Linked DNA regions of Homo sapiens. The protein of the gene in region 1 interacts with the protein of each later gene in a pairwise test. Each region holds a gene or a part of one and is shown in the gene's direction. Other genes may lie near its edges. The genes, in order: GOLGA3 and SRR.

Evidence for each region.
Region 2: the proteins of GOLGA3 (region 1) and SRR interact in a two-hybrid assay, tested with the Homo sapiens proteins (one study listed by BioGRID).

The regions. Positions count from the first base shown.
Region 1 is NC_000012.12:132,781,471-132,793,039, reverse strand, and holds part of GOLGA3 (golgin subfamily A member 3), read left to right. Parts: intron 1-1,746; coding exon 1,747-1,824; intron 1,825-3,749; coding exon 3,750-4,013; intron 4,014-6,252; coding exon 6,253-6,347; intron 6,348-6,484; coding exon 6,485-6,701; intron 6,702-8,732; coding exon 8,733-8,876; coding exon of another isoform or gene 8,877-9,014; exon of another isoform or gene 9,015-9,172; intron 9,173-10,546; coding exon 10,547-10,744; intron 10,745-11,569. UniProt on the Homo sapiens protein: Golgi auto-antigen; probably involved in maintaining Golgi structure.
Region 2 is NC_000017.11:2,310,404-2,321,972, forward strand, and holds part of SRR (serine racemase), read left to right. Parts: intron 1-5,153; 5' UTR 5,154-5,157; coding exon 5,158-5,325; intron 5,326-7,466; coding exon 7,467-7,593; intron 7,594-8,422; coding exon 8,423-8,526; intron 8,527-10,902; coding exon 10,903-11,022; intron 11,023-11,138; coding exon 11,139-11,213; intron 11,214-11,569. UniProt on the Homo sapiens protein: Catalyzes the synthesis of D-serine from L-serine. D-serine is a key coagonist with glutamate at NMDA receptors. Has dehydratase activity towards both L-serine and D-serine.

The DNA.
Region 1 (11,569 bases):
CTGTGTGGAGCCCTCCGAGTGCGGGTCCCGTGCGGTCTGTCTGTGTGGAGCCCTCCGAGTTCAGATCCCGTGTGGTGGGTCTGTGTGGAGCCCTCCGAGTGCAGGTCCCGTGGGGTGGGTCTGTGTGGGGCCCTCCGAGTGCAGATCCCGTGTGGTGGGTCTGTGTGGAGCCCTCCGAGTGCAGGTCCCGTGTGGTCGGTCCGTGTGGAGCCCTCCGAGTGGAGATCCCGTGGGGTGGGTCCGTGTGGAGCCCTCCGAGTGCAGGTCCCGTGCGGTCAGTCCGTGTGGAGCCCTCCGAGTGCAGGTCCCGTGCGGTCGGTCCGTGTGGAGCCCTCCGAGTGCAGATCCCGTGTGGTGGGTCTGTGTGGAGCCCTCCGAGTGCAGGTCCCGTGCGGTCGGTCTGTGTGGAGCCCTCGGAGTGCAGGTCCCGTGGGGTGGGTCTGTGTGGAGCCCTCTGAGTGCAGGTCCTGTGCGGTGGGTCTGTGTGGGGCCCGAGGCTCTGCATTTCTCACAAGCTCCTGGGCTGAATGGGCTGGGCTCCAACAGACTTTGCAGGACAAGGACCAGAGCCTGGGGTCAGCACCCTCAGCCTGTGGGCGCAGCCCAACACCGGGTTCTGTAAACTGTCACTGTAACAGCCCTGCTCGCTCGCCTGTGCTGCAAGAGCATTGCTGAGCAGCTGTGACTGACGTGCAGCCTGTGAGCTGCAGTCTTTTCCCATCAGGCATCTCCAAGAAAGGCTTGCCGAGCCCTGGGCTGCAGTGTCCCCTGGCCTCATCCCCTCTCCCACCTCCCTGCCACTCACTGTGCCTTCATGCTGTCAGTGGTGAGGAGGGAGAGCCCAGGCCTTAGGAACCACCAGTTCCCGTCAGAACACAAGTGCTTCTTCCTATAACATCTGTGCAGATGTGTGCCCTCCTGGAGCCATCAGTGTAATGTCTGTGTAGTTGCATCCCCCTCCTGGAGCCCTCAGTGTAACATCTGTGTAGATGTGTCCCCCTGCTGTAGCCCTCAGTGTAATATTCATGCACATGCATCCCCCTCTTGGAGCCCTCAGTGTAACATCTGTGCAGACACATTCCCCTCCTATAGTCCTCAGTGTAACAACTCTGCAGATGTGTCCTTTCCTGGAGCCCTCAGTGTAACATCTCTGCAGATGTGTCCCCTTCTGGAGCCCTCAGTGTAACAACTCTGCAGATGTGTCCTTTCCTGGAGCTCTCAGTGTAACATCGCTGCAGATGTGGCCCCTTCTGGAGCCCTCAGTGTAACATCTCTGCAGATGTGGCCCCTCCTGGAGCCCTCAGTGTAACATCTGTGTAGATGTGTCCCCCTGCTGTAGCCCTCAGTGTAATATTCATGCACATGCATCCCCCTCTTGGAGCCCTCAGTGTAACATCTGTGCAGACACATTCCCCTCCTATAGTCCTCAGTGTAACAACTCTGCAGATGTGTCCTTTCCTGGAGCCCTCAGTGTAACATCGCTGCAGATGTGGCCCCTTCTGGAGCCCTCAGTGTAACATCGCTGCAGATGTGGCCCCTTCTGGAGCCCTCAGTGAAACATCTCTGCAGATGTGTCCTTTCCTGGAGCCCTCAGTGTAACATCTGTGAGGATGTGTCCCCTCCTGGAGCTCTCTGTAACATTTGTGCAGATGTGTTCCCCTCCTGGAGGCTTCAGTGTAACATCTGTGCAGACAGATTCCCCTCCTGGAGCCGTCAGTGTAATGTCTGTGCACATGTCTCCCACAGGTGGAACACCTGCAGCAGGAGACTGCTGCTCTGAAAAAGCAAATGCAAAAAATAAAGGAACAGTTTCTCCAACAAAAGGTAAAAATCTGTTGTTGATTTCTTCACTTGAAACAAGCATATGAACAGAGTTTTCTGTGGTTTAATTGCTTAGCAATTCCAATGTCATTGAAGTTGAGAAGAAGGTAACATCTTGAGTTCTCTTTAAATTTTTTTTTTTTTTTTTTTTTTTTTTTTTTTTTTTTTGAGACGGAGTCTCTCTCTGTCAGCCAGGCTGGAGTGCAGTGACGCGATCTTGGCTCACTGCAAGCTCTGCCTCCCGGGTTCAAGCTATTCTCCTGCCTCAGCCTCCCGAGTAGCTGCGACTACAGGCGCCCTCCACCACGTCCGGCTAATTTTTTGTTTTTTGTATTTTGAGATGGGGTTTCTCCGTGTTAGCCAGGATGGTCTCAATCTCCTGACCTCAGGTGATCCACCCTCCTCGGCCTCCCAAAGTGCTGGGATTACAGGTATGAGTCACCGCGCCCGGCCCTCTTTAACTTTTTTTAAAGGTACTTAATCTGCAAAGTCAAGACACACTTCCACAGTGGGGTGGGGGTCTTGGCCCCTCAGATCTCCAGGGGCGGCTGTCACTGGAGCGCCTGTCAGCATACCCTGTTGTGCTCACTCCAGGGAGCTGTGTGTTGTGCAGTGTTGTTAACACACAGGTTGGGTTTGCCATTTAAAATGTCTTTGAAAAATGCACATAGAGTTCCAGCATTGAAACAAATTTTGGTTATCCAAAAAGACACGGAATATAAATTTTGTGTCAGTGAAGCCAGTACCTCCTGTTGGATTTTATGGGATCTGAGCAAGGGTGACCCCGAAGCTATATTGTGAGTGCTGCTGTGTTTTATTTCTGAGCGAGGGTGACCCCTGAAGCAGCGTTGTGAGCGCTGCTGTATTTTATTTTATTTTATTTTTGAGATGAAGTCTCGCTCTGTACCCCAGGCTGGAGGGCAGTGGTGCGATCTCGGCTCACTGCAAGCTCCGCCTCCCAGGTTCACGCCATTCTCTTGCCTCAGCCTCCTGAGTAGCTGGGACTACAGGCACCGGCCACCACGCCCGACTAATTTTTTTTTGCATTTTTAGTAGAGACGGGGTTTCACCGTGTTAGCCAGGATGGTCTCAATCTCCTGACCTCGTGATCCGCCCACCTTGGCCTCCCAAAGTGCTGGGATTACAGGCATGAGCCACCACGCCCGGCCTGTAATTTAGTTTTTTTGAGACAGAGTCTGGCTGTGTCGCCCGGGCTGGAGTGCAGTAGTGCTGTCTCCGCTCACTGCAACCTCCAACTGCCAGGTTCAAATGATTCTCATGCCTCAGCCTCGTGAGTAGCTGGGACTACAAGCATGCACCACCACGCCTGGCTAGTTTTTTGTATTTTTAGTAGAGATGGGGTTTTCACCTTGTTGGCCAGGCTGGTTGAACTCCTGACCTCAGGTGATCAGCCAGCTCGGGCTCCCAGAGTGCTGGGATTACAAGTGTGAGCCACCGCGCCCGGCCTGCTGTATTTTATTTCTGAGAGTGCTGGGATTACAAGTGTGAGCCACCGCGCCCGGCCTGCTGTATTTTATTTCTGAGCAAGGGCGGCCCCTGAAGCGGTGTCGTGAGTCCTGCTTTGCTTTATTACTGAGCCACAAGCAAGGGGATTACCTGTTGGAAGCAAAGCCGTGCAACTGAAGTCAGGAGAGAGCCAGACTCCTTGGAATAGAGGAGACGTCTATGAGGCCGGTGTGACTGCCTTGTGCACCACGCAGTCTCTCAACAGGCAGTGATGTCACCTGTGGATAAACAGTGGTGTGTCTCAGTCGATGGAGTCTTAGATTTGATGAAATGTATCTTTACCTCAAAAAAGTTATGCCCCCGATAAGTGGTAAACATTTTTGTTGAAGCCAGCTTGACCCCCAGGTACGCCCCCCACGCCCCGCCGCCCAGCGTCCGCTCACAGCCTCTGTCTTTGGCAGGTGATGGTGGAGGCCTACCGGCGCGACGCCACCTCCAAAGACCAGCTCATCAGTGAGCTGAAAGCCACCAGGAAGAGGCTGGACTCGGAGCTGAAGGAGCTGCGGCAGGAGCTGATGCAAGTGCACGGGGAGAAGCGGACTGCCGAGGCGGAGCTCTCGCGCCTGCACAGAGAGGTGGCCCAGGTCCGTCAGCACATGGCGGACCTTGAAGGGCATCTCCAGTCGGCGCAGAAGGAGCGAGACGAGATGGAAACACACTTGCAGGTCTGTCCGTGTCGGGTTGACTCATTTGATGGGGAGGATTCGGCCAAAGTGCTTGTCGGGAGGGTGGGGCCTGTGTCTGGGGCGGGGCCTGTGTCTGGGGCGGGGTCTGTCTGGGTCGGGGCCTGTGTCTGGGGTGGGGCCAAGGTGGGAGAGGCTTTTGGAAGAACAGCTGGGAACAAGGCCCACCTGGAGCATAGGTCCCAGAGGGGCAGTCCGGTGAGGCCTGATAAGTCCAGGTGGTGATGGTGCATGAAGGGAGGGAGTGAGGAGGCCCCGTGAGGCACCCAGCTTCTCCCCATTGCCATGGGCTCCCGGGATCTAGCATGTGAGAGGACAGCGGCTGTCATGCAGAAAGCAAGGGTGAGTGTTTTGTGGAGACCCCACGTCAGGGCAGGGCGTCGGGGCCCGGGGACCCTGGGAGTCCCTCGTGGCTGAGTGCGGAGCTGGGACTGACCAGAGCTAGTCATGTTCCTGTGGAAGCTGAGCCTGGGCTGGCTTCTGCACACAGTGGGTGTCCGAGATGCTGGTGACAGTTTCTCGGCTGCAGGTAGCAGAGCAGGTGAGGGGTAGAGGCGGGGGACGGAGGCCGCAGTCCAGGATCCTGTCCAGACATCCAGGCTGAGGAACCGGGAGGTGAGACGAGAAATCAGGAGAGCAACAGTAAATTTGGGGAGAGTCGTCTGATGGCACGTTAGACCAAGTGCTACGTTTTGCTTATGAAGTTTCTGAAGTTGCCGGAGAGGACCGAGCCAAGGTCCCAGCAGGCAGATTGGTCAGCATGTCTGGCTCATTAGGAGCCAGGCTGAGGCCTGTGAGTAGGCGGTGTGGCCGGCACCATCATTGTTGGAAAGTGAGGGCTGATGGATTAGCGCTGGTGCCGGGGTGGGGAGGTGGGCCAAGGGGAGGGCCGGCTCTTTGGACTGTAGGAGGCTTGGAGGACTCAGCAGTGCGGGCAGAGCACGTTCGGACCCCACAGCTGCAGGCCTGGGCTGGTTGTGGGGACTCGCCTCGCACACAGGAGCTGGGGAAAGGCTGCGAGGGCAGGAGCAGGTCGGGGACGCGGCCCTCAGTGTTCACAGTTGATCCTGAGGAGGGCATCCGGGGGGGGTCCAGGGAAGGGTCCTGGGGTCTCAGGAAGGGTCCTGGGGTCTCGGGAAGGGGTCCCGGGGTCTCCGGGGAGGGGTCCCGGGGTCTCCGGGGAGGGGTCCCGGGGTCTCCGGGGAGGGGTCCCGTGGTCTCCGGGGAGGGGTCCCGTGGTCTCCGGGGAGGGGTCCCGGGGTCTCCGGGGAGGGGTCCCGGGGTCTCCGGGGAGGGGTCCCGGGGTCTCCGGGGAGGGGTCCCGGGGTCTCCGGGGAGGGGTCCCGGGGTCTCCGGGGAGGGGTCCCGTGGTCTCCGGGGAGGGGTCCCGGGGTCTCCGGGGAAGGGTCCCAGGGGTTCTGGGGAGGGGTCCCGGGGTCTCAGGAAGGGTCCTGGGGGCTCTGGGGGAGGGGTCTGGGGACTGTGGGGAGGGGATCCAGGGGCTTGTGGGGAGGGTTCCCGGGGGCTCTTGGGGAGGGGTCCTGGGGTTTCCTAGGAGGGGTCTGGATCCTTGAGGAGGGGTCCTAGGCCTTGGGGAGGGTTCCTGGGGCCCTGGGGAGGGGTCCTGGGTCCTGAGGGTTTGGAGGAGAGGTCCTGGGTCCACAGGCTTTCCTATGAACCAGTCATGTCCTGTTGTGCCTCTGATGCTCTGGACAGTGTTTGGAAACGCTTGTTGGTCTCAGTAATGAGTGGTTTGTGGCCGGGTGCAGTGGCTCACACCTGTAATCCCAGCACTTTGGGAGGCCGAGGCAGGTGGATCACGAGGTCAGGAGTTCAAGACTAGCCTGACCAATATGGTGAAACCCTGTCTCTACTAAAAATACAAAAATTAGCTGGGCATGGTGGCGGGCACCTGTAGTCCCAGCCACTCGGGAGGCTGAGGCAGGAGAATCACTTGAACCTGGGAGGCGGAGGTTGCAGTGAGCTGAGATCACGCCCCTGCACTCCAGCCTGGGTGACAGAGTGAGACTCCATCTCAATAAAAAAAAAAAAGAGTGGTTTGTAAGAAGGCAGACGTCTCTCTCAGGATTTTTCTCAAGGCCCAAGTCCTCCAGGGCGAGCCTGAGCAGTGCCTTTGGTGGGGGTGATGGGCTGGAGCCAGGAAGGGGAGACAGGCTGGGGGTGGCAGTGCCGCTCCTCACGCCCTCCTTCCCTTCCACAGTCGTTGCAGTTCGATAAGGAGCAGATGGTCGCGGTCACAGAGGCCAATGAGGCGCTGAAGAAACAAATCGAAGAGTTGCAGCAAGAGGCCCGGAAGTAAGTCTGCATGTGCCCGGGGGAGGTGCGGGGGCCAGGTGGGAGGTGCGGGGGCCGGGGGGGAGGCGAACCAGAATGCCAGACGGTCACATCGGGATAATTCAGCTTCCTCCTGTGTCTCCCTCATGACACCCCAGGGCCATCACGGAACAGAAGCAGAAGATGAGGCGGCTGGGCTCAGACTTGACCAGCGCCCAGAAGGAGATGAAGACCAAACATAAGGCCTACGAGAACGCCGTGGGCATCCTCAGCCGCCGCCTGCAGGAGGCCCTCGCGGCCAAGGAGGCTGCGGACGCGGAGCTGGGCCAGCTCCGAGCCCAGGGTGGCAGCAGTGACAGCAGCCTGGCTCTACATGTAGGTAACACCGTGCCATCCCCGGCCAGGGTCACCAGCCCCTCAGTGCAGGGAAGGGCTCTCCATCAGCAGTTGTCCCCTAAAGCCTAGCGGGGCCGAGCTCGCGTGGGAGGTGGCAACTCTCTAAACTCCCGCTCATCTTCCAGGTTACCAGGAACCCACAGTGACTGAGCATTGCCTCGCGTCTCCCTCATGAACCCCACATGGCCTGTGGCCTGTGGCGTTCACCTGATTTTCCTCAAGAAATCTCCTTGGCTCAGAGAAGTTCAGCTGCTCCCTTGGGGCAGAGGGAGGGCCTGCCCTGGTCCGCTCGCGTTCCAGCTGCCTCTGCGCCTCCTCGCATCTCAGGAGGAAAAGCAGCCTCCGCACTCACTGAGAAGCAGGAGTGAGGGCATGGGGTCAGCGATTGACAGGGTTCAGGGAGCGTTTAGAGGTAGCCATGCTGCGGTGGCCCAGAACAAGCGGGTGCCCTTTCTGGAGGGCTCTGAGCAGAGCCTTCCGTGGAGGCCGTGGCCCTCCGTGCTCTGTCACCTTTCGTGGTAGGCATAACATTCTACCTGAGTGAGTTCATCCGCATTTTATTTATTATTCTCCAATTCACGTCCTTGCACTGACAACTTAGTATTTCTTCTTATATGTGGTTTGTTTCTATCTCCTGTCCACTTAAGAATTTATGGGTAGGAAGAGACTGTATCATAACGTGGGGTTTTCTTGTCAAATAAACTCGGCCGGGCACGGTGGCTCACACCTATAATCCCAGCGCTTTGGGAGGCTGAGGCAGGAGGATCGCTTGAGCACAGGAGTTTGAGACCAGCCTGGGCAACATAATTAGACCCTGTATTTACAAATAATACAAAAATAAAACCCAGGCATGGTAGCACGTGCCTGTGGACACAGATGCTTGAGACACTGAGGTGGGAGGATCGCCTCAGCCTGGGAGGTGAGGCTGAAACTGCAGTGAGTCATGATTTTGCTGCTGCACTCCAGCCCGGGCGATAGAGACTCTGTGTCTGAAATTCAATAAATAAATCAAGTGCTTCCTCTCACCTGGTTGCTTTGTAAAATGTTGGGGAGATTGATTCAGTTGCCATTTTCTTTGGGCTCACTAAGGGCTGGGGTGGGGAGGTCGCAAAGGCCGGGCAGAGCTGGCCCCTCGCCACGCTGTTGCAGCTGAGGAATAGCACAGCTGCGAGCCGATGTCTTGTGTCCGTCCGGGCTTCACCCCTCGCAAGTGGTGACTTTTGGCAAATTTCTCACCTTTTTGATCCTCAGCAAAATGAGGCCAAATTGAGGTGAATGAGAACCTTCTCATGTAAGGGTTAAGTTAGGTGGTACTGGAACATGCTTGGCAAGGGCCTGGTACCATCGAGGCAGCAAGTGGGCGGGGTGTGAGAGCACACCTGTGCCTGCATGTATCCGTGCATGTGTGAGGTGTGAGCATGTGTGTGTGCAGCGTGTGGAGTGTTTGTGTGCATGGTGTGTGGGATGTGAGCATATGTGTGCATGCAGTGTGGGGTGTATGTGTGCATGCAGTGTGAGGTGTGAGCACATGTGCATGTGTGGTGTGGGGTGTGAACACGTGGGGTGTGAGCATGTGCGTGTGGGGTGTGAGCACGTGTGTGTGTGGTGTGTGGGATGTGAACATGTGCACGTGGTGTGTGTTACATGAGTGTGTGTATGTGATGTGTGGTGCGTGAGCATGTGTGTGGTATTTATTACAACTGGTGCTGCTTGCTTGCCACAGATGGTGATTTATAGCCATTATCTGCAGGTCAGATTTTCTTCTGTATTTTTGAAGCATTGAACTGAAGAGATGATTTTGTTTGTCCCAACTATCCCCGTGTGTCATCGTGTGCATGCTGTGGTCGGTTAATTCAACTTCTTTAACAAAAAGGAAGGTTGTGAGACTGTGTCAGACAGCTGGTGTCTGGTGTGTGCAGCCACACAGCCTCATGCCTGCCGGCACCACAGGAAGTGAGGGGGGTCAGGGCCTGTCCCATGACCAAGCGCCCGTTCCATCTTGGCCCTTAGGAAAGGATCCAGGCCCTGGAGGCGGAGCTGCAGGCTGTCAGTCATAGCAAGACGCTGCTGGAAAAGGAACTGCAGGAGGTCATAGCGCTGACCAGCCAGGAGCTGGAGGAGTCCCGGGAGAAGGTGCTGGAGCTGGAGGACGAGGTGAGGCCTGGCCATCTGCTGTGGCGGCAGCGTGGGGCAGGTCACGTGAGCCCTGGACATGCCGCCACGCGTGAGACCCGAAGAACAAAACTTCACCGTGTGCCCAGCGTTGCTACTTTTGGTGTTGCCACCTTCTGACCGTCGGCCTCTGGCTCTGTGGTGGGGCAGGCCCTGATTCCAGCCCTCTGGGGAGGATCACTGTACAGCCTCTTTGGTGGAATGGTTACAGAATTCATAGTGGAACCCTTCTCAGTTCAAATGCTTTGGTTGCAAATAAGAAACCCAACTTCGCCAGGCGAGTGGCTCATGCCTGTAATCCCAGCACTTTGGGAGGCTGAGGTGGGCGGATCATGAGGTTAGGAGCTCGAGACCAGCCTGGCCGACATGGTGAAACCCCATCTCTACTAAAAATACAAAAATTAGCCGGGTGTGGTGGCGGGTGCCTGTAGTCCCAGTTACTTGGGTGGCTGAGGCAGGTAAACCGCTTGAACCCAGGAGCGGAGGTTGCAGTGAGCCAAGATCGCGCCACTGCACTCCAGGCTGGGCGACAGAGTGAGACTCCGTCTCAAAAAAAGAAAAACGTCAGATATCTCAGGTTCAGAGACAGTTCTCGCTTCAGCGCTGCTGGTGGCAGCTCAGTGTCCCGGCGCCCCCCACTCCCCAGCCCCTCCCTGTGGAGCTCCGTCACAGTAGGGCCGCCTGTTCCACTCTCTGGCTGTGTCCTGCCCTGAAGTGGTTTTGCTCATGCCCACCCTGCTGAGTGGCCTAGCCAGGGCTCAGTGCCTGGACAGACTTCTCCAGAAGCCCATGGCCCCAGGAGAAGGCTGGGCTCTTGGCCATGGGGAGGAATGAGAGGGGCCTGGGGAAGCAACTGACCATGACCACGACAGCCTTCAGATCATGAAGCAAGCACGGTCCTGTGGTGTCCATCGCAGGGTTGTGTGGTGTCCATTGTTCTTTGTTTTTGTTGTCTTGAGACAGAGTCTCACTCTGTCATTCAGGCTGGAGTGCACAATCTTGGCTCACCACAGCCTCCACTTCCCAGGTTCAAGTGATTTTCCCGCCTCATTCTCCTGAGTAGCTGGAACTACAGGTGATCGCCACCACACCTGGATAATTTCTGTAGTTTTGGTAGAGACAGGGTTTCATCATGTTGGCTAGGCTGGTCTCAAACCCCTGACCTCCCAAAGTGCTGGGATTACAGGTGTGAGTCACTGCGTCCAGCCCATTGCTGTGTTTTAGTTTTCGATGTTTCTTTTCTTTTCTTTTTCTTTTTTTTTTTTTTTTTGAGACAGAGTCTCGCTGTGTTGCCCAGGCTGGAGTGCAGGGGCACAATCTCAGCTCACTGCAACCTCCACCTCCTGGGTTCAAGCGATCCTTCTGCCTCAGCCTCCTGAGTAGCTGGGACTAAAGGCATGTGCCACGATAGTGGCTAATTTTTGTATTTTCAGTAGGGACGGGGTTTCACCATGTTGGCCAGGCTGGTCTCAAACTCCTGACCTCAGGTGATCCCCCTGCCTCGGCCTCCCAATGTGCTGTGATTACAGGCGTGAGCCTCTGCGCCTGGCCTAAGTTTTCGCTGTTTCTTGTTGAAAACTCACCTGTTTCTGGGGTATGTGAACTCCACTCACCAGTGCAGGTAATTTTACAGTGACATTGGTATGTTTCAGCTTCAAGAATCCAGAGGCTTTAGGAAGAAGATAAAACGCCTTGAGGAGTCAAACAAGAAGTTGGCTCTTGAATTAGAGCACGAGAAAGGGAAGCTTACGGGCCTCGGTCAGTCCAACGCAGCTCTGCGGGAACACAACAGCATCCTAGAAACAGCTTTGGCCAAGAGGGAGGCAGACCTAGTCCAGTTGAACCTTCAGGTATTCAAACTCGTCAAACTCACGCCAGCAACGGTGTGAGAGTTGGTGGGGCTGTGCGCACTCCGAGAATCTCATCCAGATTCAGTCACCTGTGCTGACTCCTAGCCCACCCGGCCTGCAGCCGAGAGAACAGGCTCAGGAGTCCGGGTGACCCACGGCCCTGGGTCCCCAGCTGTTGGTGCAGGGCTGGGCTCTCCGAGGGGAGGAACAGGCTCAGGGGTCTGGGTGACCCACAGCCCTGAGTCCCCAGCTGTTGGTGCAGGGCTGGGCTCTCTGAGGTGAGGCTGGAGCCCCTGCGTGTGCTCAGTTCACCTGTTTAGTTGAGGGGCAGACCTGCTTAGTCGGGGGGCAGACCTGCTTAGTTGGGGGGCAGACCTGCTTAGTTGAGGGGTAGACCTTCCATGTGGGTGTGGCTGAGTTCCAGTCCCAGACGGTGACATTGTTTGTAGGGGGCACTTAACAAGAGGTTCACACAATTCAGAACTGGGACTTGAACCCTGACCTGGTTCTCACTCAGCTACTTAGTCTCCACAGCCTCTCTGAATTGAGGACTAGGCTGGGCATTTCAGGGAAATCCTGGGGGCCAAATCGAGCTGCTGGTGTTGACTATCCCATCTTAGTTCCATATTTTGCCCTAGTTCCCACCACTTCTGTTCTTTTTGTACCCGGCTGCAGCCCCTGATTTGTATGTAGTTTTTGAGTTCCCAGCCACCATGTTCCATTTTTTTGTTGTTGTTGTTGTTAGTAATACGGAGTCTCACTCTGTCTCTCAGGCTGGAGTGCAGTGGCACGATCGCGGCTCCCTGCCTCCCGGGTTCAAGCGAT
Region 2 (11,569 bases), on another chromosome or scaffold:
TAGGGTTTCAACGTGTTGCCCAGGCTGGTCTTAAATTCCTGAGCTCAAGCAGTCCGCCCACCTAAAGTGCTGGGATTACAGGTATGAGCCACTGCATCCTGCCAAGGGGGCATAATTGACATTTATTCATAAAAATATTGAGACTTCAGGCCTGGCATGGTTTTTTGGGATTTTTGGTTGTTGTTTTTTTTTTGAGACAGAGTCTCACTCTGTCGCCCAGGCTGGAGTGCAGTGGAACATTCTCGGCTTACTGCAACCTTTGCCTTCCAGGTTCAAGCGATTTTTCTGCCTCAGCCTCCCTAGTAGCTGGGACTACAGGCAAATGCCACTACTCCTGGCTAATTTTTTTGTTTGTTTGTTTGAGACAGAGTCTTGCTCTGTCACCCAGGCTGGAGTGCAGTGGCATGATCTTGGCTCACTGCAAACTCCGCCTCCCGGGTTCATGCCATTCTCCTGCCTCAGCCTCCCGAGTAGCTGGGACTACAGGTGCCCGCCACCATGCCCGGCTAATTTTTTGTATTTTTAGTAGAGACAGGGTTTCACCATGTTAGCCAGGATGGTCTCGATCTCCTGACCTTGTGATCTTCCCACCTCAGCCTCCCAAAGTGCTGGGATTACAGGCGTGACCCACCACGCCCGGCCAATTTTTGTTTTTTTAATGGAGACGGGATTTTACTATGTTAGTCAGTCTGGTCTCAAACTCCTGAACTCCTGATCTCAAGTGATCCACTTGCTTTGGCCTCCAAAAGTGCTGGGATTACAGGCAAGAGCCACCACGCCCAGCCAACTATTTTTTGTTCTCTTGTTTTTTTGTTTTTAAGAGACAGGGTCTTGCTCTTGCAGTGGTACAATAACTCACTGCAGCCTTGAACTCCTGGGTTTAAGCAATCCTCCTGCCACTGTGCCCAGCCGAGGGGGCATAATTGACATTAAAAAATATTGAGTTTTCGGGCCCGTCATGGTGGCTCACGCCTGTAATCCCAGCACTTTGGGAGGCCAAGGTGGGTGGATCACTTGAGCTCAGAAGGTCAAGACCAGCCTGGGCAACATGGCAAAACCTTGTCTCTACAAAAAATACAGACGTTTTTTGTATTTGTGGTGGCACAGTGCACCTGTGGTCCCAGCTACTCAGGAGGCTGAGGTGAGAGGATTGCCTGAGCCTGGGAGGCAGAGGTTGCAGTGAGCTGAGATCATGCCAATGCACTCCAGCCTGGACGACAAGAGACCCCGTCTCAGTAAATAAATAATGCCTCCAATTCATTTATACATCTTTACAATGGAATTTCTGGCAACTTTGATAAAGTAATTCTAGTTCACCTGAAAGAATTGATATGTGAGAAAAGCCAATGAATTTTAGAGCAATCAAGGGAGAATTTATTAATACAGTATATAATAGGAAAAGACATTGGCAGTCTGGCCAATGGAACAAAATACAATAGCCCCAACCATTCATAGAAATTTAATTTTTGATAAATAGAGCATTTCAGAGGAAAAGGATTCTGTCAGTAAATGGTGTGTTAAGAAGGCTGGGTGTGGTGCCTCATGCCTGTAATCCCAGCACTTTGGAAGGCCAAGGCGGAAGGATCACTTGAGCTCAGGGGTTTGAGACCAGCCTGGGCAACACAGCAAGACTTCCTCTCTACTAAAATAAAAATTTAAAAAATTAGCTGGGTATGGTGGTGCACAGTCATAGTCCCAGGTACTTGGGAGGCTGAGGCGGGAAGATCACTTGAGCTCAAGAGTTTGAAGCTGCAGGGAGCCATAATTGAGCCACTGTACACCAGCCTGGACAACAGAGTGAGACCTTATCTAAAAAAAAAAAAAAAAGACTGAGAAAAGAACAAGTGGCCAAGATACACAAAAAAATGTTCAATCACTAGTAATTAATGTAAATTAAAACTACTAGACATTGCCAGGCACAGTGGCTCACACCTGTAATCTCAGCACTTTGGGAGTCTGAGGCAGGTGGATCACGAAGTCAGGAGATCGAGACCATCCTGGCTAACACAGTGAAACCCTGTCTCTACTAAAAATACAAAAAATTAGCCTGGCGTGGTGGCACACACCGGTAGTCCCAGCTACTCGGGAGGCTGAGGCAGGAGAATCACTTGAACCTGGGAGGTGGAGGTTGCAGTGAGCCAAGATCCCACCACTGCACTCCAGCCTGGGCAACAGAGCAAGACTCCGTCTCAAAGAAACAACAACTACTAGACATAACTAAATTGACATAAAAATGATATAGGACGGATGAAGGAAAAGAGGCATCATTCCATCAAAACTGTTGTTGGGAGTACAAATTGATGTAATATAGGACCCTTCTGGAGATCAGTTTGGCAGTGGGTATCAGATTTCTTAGAAATATGTATGCCTTTTGATACAAAATACCATTTGGTGAAATCTACCCTAAGGACTGACGGAGGTACACAAAAATCTTGCAACAAGGCTATTCATTACATCATTCTTACAGCCAACAACAACAAAAGGAAATCCAAATGTTCATTTGAGCTATGTAAACTTAAAATTATTATTTTTTCTTTTTCAAGAGATAGGGTCCTGCTTATGTTGCCCAGGCCACAGTACAGTGGCTATTCATAGACGTGATAATAACACACTCCCGGGCTCAAGCAAGCCTCCCGCCTTAGCCTCCCAAGTAGCCGGGACTACCAGTGTGTGTCACTGCCCCCAGCTAAATTATTGTATTTTTGTAAAAGAAGTACTATTAAGTCATTTTAAAAGTTGGATAAAGCCGGGCGCAGTGGCTCACGCCTGTAATCCCAGCACTTTGGGAGGCTGAGCCAGGTGGATTGCCTGAAGTCAGGAGTTCGAGACTAGCCTGGCCAACATGGTGAAACCCTGTCTCCACTAAAAATAAAAAAATTAGCTGGGTGTGGTGGCAGGCGCCTGTAATCCCAGCTACTAGGGAGGCTAGGGCAGGAGAATCGCTTGAACCTGGGAGGCAGAGGTTGCAGTGAGCTGAGATGGCGCCACCGCACTCCAGCCTGGCGGCAGAGCAAGACTCTCTCAAAAAAAAAAAAAAAGTTGGATAAATGGGCCGGGCGTGGTGGCTCACGCCTGTAATACCAGCACTTTGGGAGGCCGAGGCGGGCGGATCACCTAAGATCAGGAGTTCAAGACCAGCCTGGCCAACATGGTGAAACCCCGCCTCTACGAAAAATATAAAAATTAGCTGGGTGTGGTGGTGGGCGCCTGTAATGCCAGCAACTCAGGAGGTTGAGGCAGGAGAATTGCTTGAACCCAGGAGGCAGAGGTTGCAGTGAGCCACAGTCATGCCACTGCACTTCAGTCTGGGTGACAGTGAAACTCCATCTCAAAAAAACAACAAAAAAAAAATGTTGATAAATGTACTCACCTATGAGATTCATTGATATTCATAATACTGTCTGACAAAAAAAGAAGTTACCAAACCTACCAAAGAGTTTTGTCTGCATATGTAGTTGGGCCTGGAAAGGTAAACCACTGGATAGCAACTGTCTTTAGGTAGGAAGGTTTCGTGGCTATTTTCATGTTCTTTTTGTATCTCTGTATTTTCAGATTAACTCAGTTTTCTAATGAATATAGATTCTTTTGTAATAAGGAAAAATAGAGAAACTTCATATTTAACTGCTACAATAGACACAGTGGAAAGTGGAAGCTTAATGTAGTTATTGAAAATTATGAAAATTGTAAAGAAACTGAGTCAAATGTAGGAGCAAATAAAATGTTTGCTTTAACTGTTACATAATGTATATTGAGAATGCAGAAGGAGCCGGGCGCAGTGACTCACGCCTATAATCCCAGCACTTTGGGAGTCTGAGGCAGGCGGATCACCTGAGGTCGGGAGTTCGAGACCAGCCTGCACAACATGGAGAAACCCCGTCTCTATTAAAAATACAAAATTGGCCGGGTTTGGTGGCTCACGCCTGTAATCCCAGCACTTTGGGAGGCCGAGGCAGGCGGATCACGAGGTCAGGAGATTGAGACTATCCTGGCTAACACGGTGAAACCCCGTCTTTACTAAAAATACAAAAAATTAGCCAGGCATGGTGGCAGGTGCCTGTAGTCCCAGCTACCAGGGAGGCTGAGGCAGGAGAATGGCGTGAACCCGGGAGGCGGAGCTTGCAGTGAGCCGAGATCGCGCCACTGCACTCCAGCCTGGGTGACAGAGCGAGACTCTGTCTCAAAAAAAAAAAAAAAAAAAAATTAGCTGGGCATGGTGGTGCATGCCTGTAATCTCAGCTACTCGGGAGGCTGAAGCAGGAGAATCGCTTGAACCTGGGATGTGGAGGTTGTGGTGAGCCAGGACTGCACCAGTGCACTCCAGCCGGGACAACAGGAGTGAAACACCATCTCAAAAAACAAAAAAAAAGAAAATGCAGAGGGAAATAAAGAAAATGAACATAGTTATTTAAATGGAATAGTCTAGCTATTTTTTCTTTATCAAATAATTTGTTAAATTTTTATTAAAAATTAAAAATTTAAATTTATAAATTAAAAATAATATAAAAATTGAATCCAATTCATTCAAGTAGCTTCACAACGATGATTAAAAGAAAGGTGGAGCTGGGCACGGTGGCTTACACCTGTAATCCCAGCACTTTGGGAGGCCGAGGCAGGCGGATCACGAGGTCAGAAGTTCAAGACCAGCCTGGACAACATGGTGAAACCCCGTGTCTACTAAAAATATAAAAATTAGCTGGGCACGATGGCACATTCCTGTAATCCCAGCTACTCGGGAGGCTGAGGCAGGAGAATTGCTTGACCCGGGAGGCGGAGGTTGCAGTGAGCCGAGATTGTGCCACTGCACTCCAGCCTGGGCTACAGAGCGAGACTCCGTCTCAAAAAAAAAAAAAAAAAAAGGAAGATGGAGACCAGTGGCAGTGCCAACAGTGCCAAGAGATGGGTGGTGTGGGTGGGGAGTGGGCTTTAGCCTTCTGTAATCACCATCAGTTACTTCCCTCAAAGCTTCACCAGAAAAACTTCGTTCAGCTTTTAAGTCAACTCTCTTTTAGGGAAATTCTGACACTCCAATAATGGAGAATTTCCACATGACACCACAGGCCCCAGGTCTATTCTGTTACGTATTTTCAAAATCTCTTCAATAAACATACTGTCTCAGACTTTGCTTTGACCCCTTTCTTATTCCTGGGTTTCAGAACCATGTGTGCTCAGTATTGCATCTCCTTTGCTGATGTTGAAAAAGCTCATATCAACATTCGAGATTCTATCCACCTCACACCAGTGCTAACAAGCTCCATTTTGAATCAACTAACAGGGCGCAATCTTTTCTTCAAATGTGAACTCTTCCAGAAAACAGGATCTTTTAAGGTAACAATCCTTTTTCTCAGTGTATCATGTATGTTTTCACACCCTTTCACATATCAGTTTGATTCTCCTGACCACCCAATGAGATAGGCAGAAGTAAATTAATGCCTTTATACAGCTGGAAAAAAGGTTACAGAAATTTTCCTTTCAAGTCCTTGTTTTACCTAGCATCATAGTGTTGATAAGCAACTTTTACACAGTCATAAATCCTTATAATTAGGATAATATATATAACTTATCCGAGTAATTTTTATATATATGTATGTGCATATATATAATATATACATAAAATACAGTCATATGCCACATAACGTTTCAGTCAATGACAGACCACCTATATGATGGTGGTCCTTGGTCCCATAAGGTTATACCACACATTTACTGTACGATTTCTGTGTTTAGATACAGAAATACTTCTCATTGTGTTATAGCTGCCTACAGTATTCAGTACAGTAACATGCTATACAGGGTTTGCAGCCTAGGAGTAATAGGCTGTAACAGCTGGATTTGTATAAGTACACTCTATGGTGCATGCAAGATGATGAAATTGCCAAATCATGCATTTCTCGAAACATATCCCCATCCTTAAGCAAAGCATGACTTTATTATATATACCATCACTTACTGTCCAAACTAAGACATAATTTATTATCCAAACTAGGACATGTTTGGGACTGAAAGAAGCAACCTGAAATATCTAAACAGACACCTGAACTGTTGCAGGCAAATTGGAAAGTGTTATCACTCTGTATATGACCCAAGTTTAAGCATTCACTGTATCAACTTGCTACACATGGATACATTATCAATATAAAAGATCTAAGCCTGGGCCACACGGCAAAACTCTGTCTACAAAAAATACAAATATATGACAGGCGCAGTGGTTCACACTTGTAATCCCAGCACTTTGGGAGGCTGAGGCAGGTGGATCACCTGAGGTCAGGAGTTCGACACCAGCCTGACCAACATGATGAAACGCTTTTTTGTTTTGTTTTGTTTTGTTTTGAGACGGAGTCTCACTCTGTCCCCCAGGCTGGAGTGCAGTGGCACGATCTCGGCTCACTGTAAGCTCCACCTCCCAGGTTCACGCCATTCTCCTGCCTCAGCCACCCGATTACCTGGGACTACAGGCGCCTGCCACCACGCCCAGCTAATTTTTTTTTTTTTTTTTTTGAATTTTTAGTAGAGACAGGGTTTCACCGTGTTAGCCAGGATGTTCTTGATCTGACCTTGTGATCCGCCCGCCTCTGCCTCCCAAAGTGCTGGGATTACTGGCATGAGTCACCGCACCCAGCCTTGGTGAAACACTTTCTACTAAAAATACAAAATGAGCGGGACTTGGTGCCAGGCACCTGTAATCCCAGCTGCTTGGGAGGCTGAGGCAGGAGAATTGCTTGAACCCAGAAGGCAGAGGTTGCAGTGAGTTGAGATCACGCCATTGCACTCCACCATGGGTGATAGAGGAAGACTCCATCTCGGGGGAAAAAAAAAAAAAAAAAAAAAAGGCCGGGTGCGGTGGCTCACGCCTGTAATCCCAGCACTTTGGGAGGCTGAGGCAGGCGGATAACGAGGTCAAAAGATCGAGACCATCCTGGCTAACACGGGGAAACCCCGTCGCTACTAAAAATACAAAAAAATTAGCCGGGCGTGGTGGCGGGCGCCTGCAGACCCGGCTACTCGAGAAGCTGAGGCAGGAGAATGGCGTGAACCCGGGAGGCGGAGCTTGCAGTGAGCCGAGATCGCGCCACTGCACTGCAGCCCGGGCTACAACAGAGCGAGACTAGGTCTAAAAAAATAAAAAAAAAAAATTTAGCCGGGCATGGTGGCAGGTGCCTATAATCCCAGCTACTTGGGAGGCTGAGGCAGGAAAATCACTTGAACCCGGCCCTGGGGGTAGACGCAGTGTGGGGAGGCGGACGTTGCAGTAAGCCGAGATCGTGGCACTGCACTCCAGCCGGGATAACGGAGACTCCATCTCAAAAAAATAAAAAATAAAGATGCACATGAGATATTTAAGAGGTAAATCGATAAGATTTGGTGACAGATTGGATGTGCATGTTAAGGATAGAAAATCTAGAAAAGCTCCTTGCTTTCCAAAACAATGTTTTAATCAAATATGTGAATTCACCATCCCTCTTTTTCAGATTCGTGGTGCTCTCAATGCCGTCAGAAGCTTGGTTCCTGATGCTTTAGAAAGGAAGCCGAAAGCTGTTGTTACTCACAGCAGTGGAAACCATGGCCAGGCTCTCACCTATGCTGCCAAATTGGAAGGTACTTGATTTCTCAAGGTACTGGGTAGATCTTCAGAAAGGAGTGGAAAAGTGCCCTTAATTTCAGTGAGAGTGATGATAGCTGTGGGAAGTAACTTTCCAAAGAAATCTCTATCTGATTGCAAGCAATATGAACATAAGTTTTTTTTTTGTTTGTTTTGTTTTTTTGAAGACAGAATCTTGCTGTCACCCAGGCTGGAGAGCGGTGACGCGATCTCGGCTCACTGTAACCTCCACCTGCCGGGTTCAAGCGATTCTCCTGCCTCAGCCTCCTGAGTAGCTGGGACTACAGGTGCGCACCACCACGCCTGGCTAATTTTTTCTATTTTACAAATACAAAATACTAATTTCACCATGTTGCCCAGGCTGGTCTCGAACTCCTGGGCTCAAGCAATCCACCCGCCTTGGCCTCCCAAAGTCCTAGGATTACAGGCGTGAGCCACCACACCTGGCTGAACATGTTTCTTTCTTTTTTTTTTTTTTTTTTGAGACGGAGTCTTGCACTGTCGCCCAGGCTGGAATGCAGTGGCAGGATCTCGGCTCACTGCAAGCTCCACCTCCCGGGTTCACACCATTGTCCTGCCTCAGCCTGGGACTACAGGAGCCTGCCACCATGCCTGGCTATTTTTTTTTTTTTTTTTTTTTTTTGTATTTTTAGTAAAGACAGGGTTTCACCGTGTTAGCCAGGATGGTCTCAATTTCCTGACCTTGTGATCCGCCTGCCTCAGCCTCCCAAAGTGCTGGGATTACAGGTGTGACCCACCGTGCCTGGCCACATAAGTTTCTATTCTAAATTCTCCTGACTTTTTCCTCTCGTTTTCCTCTCCCAGGAATTCCTGCTTATATTGTGGTGCCCCAGACAGCTCCAGACTGTAAAAAACTTGCAATACAAGCCTACGGAGCGTCAATTGTATACTGTGAACCTAGTGATGAGGTAAGGAGAGCAGTGCTTGGTACCACCTTAACAGCTTTCATTTGACCAATGGCTCTTTCTACCTTACTGGCTGCTCCTTCTCAGCCTCCTTTGTGGTTTCCCCTTTATTTCTGTTAGCATGCTCAACCTTTTCTCTATCTACACTCACAAGATCTCATTAGTCTCATTTCTTAAATTATTACCTATGGTCTAACAACACCAACTCCAACTTCTCTCCCTTTAACAGCCAACTTTTATATAACAGCTACCTAACTTTCCCACTTGATGTCTTAAAAGGCATCTCAAACTACAGCTAAAACCAAACTCCTGATCTTACTTCCCTATATTGCTTCCCTTCCAGTCTTCCTCATCTTAGTAAATGGCAATTTTTATTCTTCTAGTTACTCAAAAAAAAGTTGGAGTCATCTTTTTTTGAAAATTTTTTGTTGTTGTTGTTAAAGATGGACTCTTTCTATGTTGTGGGATCCTTCTGCCTCAGCCTGTTGAGTAGCTAGGACTACAGGTGCATGCCACCACACCTAATTCCTTTATTTTTTGTAGACAGGGTCTCACTGTTGCCCAGGCTGGTCTCAAACTCCTGGATTCAAGCAGTCCTCCCACCTTGGCCTCCCAAAATGCTGGGATCACAGGCATGACCCACTGCACACAGCCAGGAATCCTCTCTGATAACCCTCTCATACCCCACATCCAAATCTCAGTCTGCTTTCAACATATTTCCATAACCCAACTGCTTCTGTGTCTACCGTTAGCACTCTGATTCAAACCAACATCAATTCTCACCTATATTCAATTCAGTAGCCAAACTGGTCTCTCTGCATCCACCCTTGCCACACTACAGGCTTTTTTGAGCAACCAGAGGTCTCCATTTAATAAAGTCAGAACTTGTCTCTTCTTTTTTTTTTTTTTTGAGGCGGAGTCTTGCTCTGTCGCCCAAGCTGGAGTGCAGTGGTGCCATCTTGGCTCACTGCAAGCCCCGCCTCCTGGGTTCCAGCGATTCTCTTGCCTCAGCCTCCCGAGTAGCTGGGACTACAGGCGCCTGCCACCATGCCCAGCTAATTTTTTCTATTTTTAGTAGAGACGGGGTTTCACTGTGTTAGCCAGGATGGTCTCGATCTCCTGACCTCGTGATCCACCCACCTCGGCCTCCCAAAGTGCTGGGATTACAGGCGTGAGCCACCACGCCTGGCCAGAACTTGTCTCTTTTCAAGTCTAAATCCTCTGTTGGTTTCCCATCTCATACACGGTGGAAACGAGAGTTCTTGCAATCATCTAATCCCTGGATAAACTCAAACATTCCTATCTTTCTGACCTCATCTCTCATCTTTTTTTTTTTTTTTTTTTTTTTTTAGACAGAATCTCCCCGTCTCCCAGGCTGGAGTGCAGCGGCACAATCTCGGCTCACTGCAACCTCCGCCTCCTGGGTTCAAGCGATTCTTCTGCCTCAGCCTCCCGAGTAGCTGGGACTACAGGCGCGTGCCACCATGCCCAGCTAATTTTTGATTCTTTAGTACAGACAGGGTTTCACCATATTGGCCAGGCTGGTCTCGAACTCCTGACCTCGTGATCTGCCCGCCTTGGCCTCCCAAAGTGCTGGGATTACAAGTGTGAGCCACCGTGCCTGGTCCCTCATCTTCTTTTTATTTATTTTGAGACAGGGTCTCACTCTGTCCAACCCAGGCTGGAGTGCGGTAGTTTCTTCTCAGCTCCCTGCAGCCTCCGCTTCCTGGGTTCAAGAGATTCTCATGCCTCAGCCACCAGAGTAGCTGGGATTACAGGCGCGTGCCACCACATCTGGCTAATTTTTGTATTTTTAGTAGAGACGGGGTTTTGCCGTGTTGGCAAGGCTGGTCTTGAACTCCTGACCTGAAGTGATCTGCCCACCTTGGCCTCCCAGAGTGCTGGGATTATAGGTGTCAGCCACTGCACCCAGCCTTGACCTCATCTTCTATTATTTCTCTTGCCCACTCTGTGCCAGCCATACTAACCTTTTTAGCTGTTCCTCAGAAAGGCCAAGCACTCCTACTTTGTAGTCTTTGCACTGTTACCCCCTCTCTGGAATATTCTAGACATCCACAGCACTTGTTCAGATCTTTTAAAATGTCACTTTACTAGAGGCTCTTCTTGGCTACCCTATATGAAATAAATTCCTTCATTTTACTCCATTGCACTTAGACATACCATATATTTACTTCATCCATCTCTACCATACAATATAACGTGCTTGAGGGCAGGGATATTTTATTAACATATATATCTCTAGTACCTGAACAAAGTGTGAAAAAAGTAGATGGTCAATAAAATGCTGAATGACCAAATGGAACTTGTTGGGGACTCTATTAAATACAAATCAATTAAGCTAAATTAATGTACTTTCAGTCCAGAGAAAATGTTGCAAAAAGAGTTACAGAAGAAACAGAAGGCATCATGGTACATCCCAACCAGGAGCCTGCAGTGATAGCTGGACAAGGGACAATTGCCCTGGAAGTGCTGAACCAGGTAAAATAGCTGAGTTCTTCCTGTTTAGCTACTGGTAAAGCTGTTGGGCTATATTCAATTATTTTATATGTATACATTAAATATAAAACTGCTTACAGTTTATATTTTCACTAAAGGTTCCTTTGGTGGATGCACTGGTGGTACCTGTAGGTGGAGGAGGAATGCTTGCTGGAATAGCAATTACAGTTAAGGTGAGCAGCTTCTGGAGGATTCCCTGCTTCAAGCAGAGGATTTACTTTACATCCTAAATGTTCTGTATACACGTGCTCAACATTCTGCACACATTACCATTCCTTCCCCTTATTCCTTTGGGACTTGAGATGAAGGCCCATCTCTGCCTCACTACTCTATTTACTATTATTATTATTTTTTGAGACAGATTCTCGCTGTTGCCCAGGCTGGAGTGCAGTGGCACGATCCTGGCCCACTGCAGCCTCCACCTCCCGGGTTCAAGCGATTCTCCTGTCTCAGCCTCCTGAGTAGCTGGGATTACAGGCATGAGCCACCACACCCCGCTAATTTTTTTGTATTTTTTTTAGTAGAGACA